2 separate regions of the Homo sapiens genome follow, and region 2 is linked to region 1. The links come from fine-mapping of genetic effects on gene expression. Tissue or cell type: whole blood. Region 1 holds a variant in brackets; the other region holds the start of a gene. All regions are shown on one strand. Distances are from middle to middle.

Evidence for each region. PIP is the estimated chance that this variant, and not a neighbour inherited with it, causes the effect.
Region 2: SPECC1L starts here. The variant in region 1 is fine-mapped to the expression of SPECC1L in whole blood (TOPMed, PIP above 0.99).

Annotation. Positions count from the first base shown.
Region 1 is chr22:24,374,827-24,377,510 of GRCh38, forward strand. The region is part of intron 14 of SPECC1L (sperm antigen with calponin homology and coiled-coil domains 1 like); the gene reads left to right. All of the region lies in intron 15 of SPECC1L-ADORA2A (SPECC1L-ADORA2A readthrough (NMD candidate)), which reads left to right. Among named protein-coding and RNA genes, the nearest start is that of ADORA2A, 51 kb to the right of the region's middle. The variant A/C (reference allele first, on the strand shown) is at 1,161.
Region 2 is chr22:24,269,856-24,272,539 of GRCh38, forward strand. It overlaps SPECC1L (sperm antigen with calponin homology and coiled-coil domains 1 like), which reads left to right and starts at 976. Exons shown (of 17, transcript NM_015330.6): 1 at 976-1,128. SPECC1L-ADORA2A (SPECC1L-ADORA2A readthrough (NMD candidate)) reads left to right here and starts at 962. Exons shown (of 20, transcript NR_103546.1): 1 at 962-1,128. It also overlaps the pseudogene RPS10P29. RefSeq lists a silencer at 765-1,294 and an enhancer at 1,355-1,434.

The DNA.
Region 1 (2,684 bases):
GGAAGGAAATAAAGATTAGAGCCAAAATAAATAAAATAGAAAATAGAAAAACAATAGAGAAGATCAATGAAAAAAAAATGGGTTCTTTGAAAAGATAAACAAATTGACAAACCTCTAAGTAGATAGATAAAAAGAAAACGAAGACTAAAGTTACCAAAATCAGGAATAAAGGGACGTTACTAATGACCTTAAGAAATAAAAAGGATTAAAATGGAATACTGTGAACAATGAATGCCAAAAATTGGATAACTTAGATGATATGGACAAATTCCTAGAAACATTAACTATCAAAATGGACTCAAGAAGCAAGAACATCTGGAGAGACAAATAACAACTAATGAGATTGAGTTAGTAATCAAAATACTTCCAGCAAAGAGAAGCCCAGGACCAGATTACTTTACTGGTTAATTCTTCCAAATTTTAAAAGAGGAATTAATAGCAATACTTCTCAAACTCTTCCAAAAATCAAAGAAAATATTACTTCCTAACTCATTCTGTGAGGCCATCATTACTCTCATACCAAAAACGGAAAAAGATATTACAAAAAAAGAAAACTGTAAAAGCCCTTGACAAAATAATGACAATATCCAGCAGTATATTAAAGAGGATTATACACCCTGACCAAGTGTTCTTTATCCCAGCAATGCAAGGTTGGTTCAACATATGAAAATGAATTAATACTGTAATACCATATTATTAGAATAAAGGGGAAAAAACCGCATGATCATCTCACTAGACACTGTAAAAGCATTTGGTAAAATCCAGCAGCCATTTATGATTTTAAAAACTAGGAATAAAAGGTAATTTTCTCAATCTAATAAAGGGTACCTATGAAAACCCACAGTTGGCTGGGCACAGTGGCTTATGCCTGTAATCCCAGTACTTTGGGAGGCCAAGGCGGGTGATCAGTTGAGGCCAGGAGTTCAAGACCAGCCTAGGCAACATGCAAAACTCCATCTTTACTAATACAAAAACTAGCCAGGTGTAGTGGCACACACCTGTAATGCCAGCTACTTGGGAGGCTGAGACATGAGAATGACTTGAACCTGCGAGGTGGAGGTTGCAGTGAGCTGATAACACACCACTGCACTCCAGCCTGGGTGACAGAGTGAGACTCTGTCTCAAAACAAACAAACAAACAAACAAAAAAAACAAAAAAA[A/C]CCCACAGTTTTAACATTATACTTAATGGTGAAGACTGAAAGCTTTCCCCTTAAGATCAGGAACAAGAAAGAATGTCGTTTATCACCATTTCTATTCAACATTTTTCTGCAAGTTCTAGCTAAGACAGACAAGAAAAAAGGAAAGAAAAGGCATCCAGATAGGAAAAAAAGTAAAATGATCTCTATTTGCAGATGATGTGATTTATGTCTAGATTTTTTTAAGAGATAGGGTCTCACTATGTTGCCCAGTCTAGGTTCAGACTTCTGGGCTCAAGTGGTCCTCCCACTTCCAACATCGTGAGTAGCTGGGACTACAGGTGTAGGCCATCACATCCAGCTTATATCTAGAAAACCTTTAAGAATTCACATAAAAACTGTTGGAACTAGTAAATCCAGAAAAGTTGAAGATGCAAGATCAGTATACAAAACTCACTTGCATTTACATATAGTAACAGTAAATTAAAACATTCCATTTATAGCAGCATCAAAAAGAATAAACTATTTAGGAATAAATTTAACCAAGGAGGCACAAGTCTAATACACTGAAAAATACAAAACATTGCTGAAAGAAATTAAAATCTAAATAAATGGAAAGACATACCTTGTTCATGGATTAGAAGTTCTGATACATGCTGCAACTTGGATGAACTTTGAATATTTTATGCTAAGGGAAAGAAGCCGAACATAAAACTTCAACCTAAAAAGACTTCCACACTCAGGCCTGAAAAGTCTCAAGTTTTGTTGAACGGCAGGAACGTGAATACTGGCAGTTTCAAGTTGGTTGTAGAACTGAAACCTCAAGCATAAGTGAAAATTACACAATCACCTAGTTTTTTTTTTTTCTTAAGAAAGAACTTTTTTTATTGAGATATGCCACACAAGATACAATTCAGCCACTTAAAATGTACATTTCAGTGGGTTTTTGTTTTTTTTTTAAGTGTATTCAGAGTTGTATAACCATTACCACAACCAGTTTTAGGCTATTTTTACCACTCCATAAAGAAATCCTATACCCATTAGCATTCATTCTCTATTTACTATAGGCAACCACTAATCTACTTTCTGTCCTATAGATTTCTTTATTATGGACATTTCCTATAAATGGAATCACACAATATGTGGTCCTCTGTGACTGGCTTCTTTCACTTAGCATCATGTTTTTAAGGTTCATCCATGCTGTAGCATATACTAGTACCTCATTCCTTTTTATGGCCAAACAATATTCCATTGTATGGATATGCCACATATTTATCCATTCTTCTGTTCAAGATGGTGTTTGTGTTGCTTACACTTTTGGGGGGGTTATTATAAATGTCACTGTTAAGAACTTTTTTTTTTCGACATGAGGTCTCACTATGTTTCCCAGGCTGGTCTCAAGTGATCTTCCCACCTCAGCCTCCCAAGTAGCTGGATCTACAGGCACATCCCACCATGCCTGGTTTGTTGTAGACATTTGTGTACAACAAATTTTTACATGGACGTATGTAGTTTTCTCATCTTCTTGTCCATCTTCTAGCCTACTAC
Region 2 (2,684 bases), 100 kb before region 1:
GTCTGCCACCGCGCCTGGCTAATATTTTTGTATTTTTAGTAGACACGGGTTTCACCATCTTGGCCAGGCTGGTCTTGAACTCCTGACCTCGTGATCCGCCCGCCTCGGCCTCCCAAAGTGCTGGGATTACAGGCCTAAGCCACCGCGCCCGGCCGGGCACATTCTTGTCTGCCAACTCCAGGTGCTTAGGCATGTGGACATCCTTCTTGACCACCGTGACTTCCTCTTTAAAAAGGAGTTCATAAATGGCAATCCGGTTTTTCTTAGGCATCAGCATTCTGGGGAGGAGCAGCCGCTAAGGTGGCAGGGTGGCCCGGATGGGGGCCGATGGAACTCGAACTCCCCCAGAATTTCTTTAATATTTTATATATATATATATATATATATACATATATATATGTATATATATACACATATATATACATATATATATACGTATATATATATGTATATATATACATATATATATACGTATATATATATACGTATATATATATGTATATACATATATATATACATATATGTTGCTCGCTTATTCTTTTTGTCTGTTCCCTTATGTACCGGGAGTGCCAGGAGGACAGGGCTTTGTGTTTTCCTCACTGCTGTCTGGCTCATGCATAGCACAGTCCTTGGCACACGGTAAACACGCTGAGGAGAACTTTTGGGACTAGCGGACTCTGAGCATCATTCCGCTGGGCCCAGTGGGGCCTCTGAAGGGACCCGCCTTGCCCGGCTCCAGCCCAAGACCTGAGGCATGCGCACCGGCTGGCCGGCTACTTTCTTGACCGGCCAAGTGGCAGAGCGGCTGCGCGACCCAGTGCCGAGACGGACGCGAGCCGGAGATGGGGGAAGGGGAGGGGGTGGTGGTGGGGGACGGCGGCGCCTGCGCAGTGAAGGAATGTAGGCGGGGCCTCCACGACGCCTGCGCAGACGGCCGCAGCCCTGCTGGGCGCGAAGGGGCTGGCCAAGGGCGGGGCCCGCGAGGGAGGCCGGGCGGCCCGGCAAGCGGCGCTGCGGGGTAGGCTGCTTTCCTGAGGCCGGACTCAACGGGTCTCGGCTGAGCCACCGGGTGAGCTCACCGCCCAGCCCAAACCAGGAGATTGCGAGGGAGCGATGCGGTGCAGCGCGGTAAGAGCAGCAGCCGGGTTCCCGCAGTGTTCGCTGGCGGGTTGGTTTATCGCCTCAGCGCCGCCCGCGCTGCCGCGCCCGGGCGTCCCCGCAGACCCCGGCAGGCCCAGCGCCTGCGCCGTCTCTGCTCCTGGGCCCCTCCAGTGTGTCCCGCGCCTGCGCCTTTCCCTTCCCGCGCCGTCCTCGTTCTGGGCTTCGGGGCTTCTGGAACAACCCGCAGGCTTCGCCGCCGAGACCCACTGGCCTTCGTCCGTTGGTGTTGGGGTTCAGCTGGTTCTGGGACCCCGCTTGCGGCTTGACTGTGTGCAGACAGGCCGGGTGCGACCCTCGTGCTTGCCTTTCCGCCGCTCCGGGAGAGGCTGGGGCTGCCGCCCCATCGCCCGGGTCCCTTGCCTGGGGCGGGGACAGCGTTGTTCAGTGGCCCCGAGGGCGCAGAGCGGAGGAGCAGGGGCCACAGGCGGCGGACCCCGGGCCTGCTGCCGGTGCTGCTTCTGCTGTGGCCGGCGCCCGAGGCGGACGGAACGTCCTTTTTTCTTGAGACGTGGTTAATTGCATCAGGTTGGATGTGAATAATCCGGTACCTGTCTGAGGAAATTTTGCGTTTCCAGGAATTTGGTAATTGTATTACCTTAAGTAGTTAAGTCTAAGACATCATAGTCGCGGCACGTTGGGCAAGCTGCCCTGGAGATGACGAAAAGAAATCAGTTTCCAGTAGTTTTAGCCCATTTACAGAACACGCAAAAATTCTGTGATCATTCAAATGCGGGGAACCTTGATTTGTTGATATCCTTGATCATTTGTCCAAGTACCAGAAGGGCGAGGAAAAGATTCCCGTGAACAGCCCAGGTGATTTCAGGGAACAGTGTTTTCTTTTGTCAAAAGAGCCTCTTAAGCCATGATAATATTTCCCAAGCTTATAACAGATACAAGCCTTTAAAAAATGGCATTTGCTGTCACCCAGTAGGACACATCTTGAGATGAAATCAGAGCTGTAGGCTTTGTAGACAACAGCAGTCATTTCTGGTGGCTTCAGGGAGTGGAGGGGGACTGCAATTTTGCCAATGTAGGTGATACCAAAGGGACTATAGTAATTTTTTCTTCGTAATTAAAAACCAGGCCAGGCGCGGTGCCTCATGCCTGTAATCCCAGCACTTTGGGAGGCCGGGGCGGGCGGATCACCTGAAGTCAGGAGTTCAAGACCAGCCTGACCAACATGGTGAAATCCTGTCTCTACTAAAAATACAAAAAGCGCGCGCCTGTAATCCCAGCTACTCAGGAGGGTGAGGCAGGAGAATCGCTTGAACCCGGGAGGCGGAGGTTGCAGTGAGCCGAGTTCGCGCCACTGTACCCCAGCCTGGGCTACAGAGCGAGGCTCCGTCTCAAAAAAACAAAAACCAGATATAACAAGGCCGAGCTCCCTGGCTCACGCCTGTAATCACAGTAGTTTGGGAGGCCGAGGCGGGTGGATCACCTGAGGTTAGGAGTTCGATACCAGCCTGGCCAACATGGTGAAACCCCGTCTCTACAAAAAATATAAAAATTAGTCGGGCGTGGTG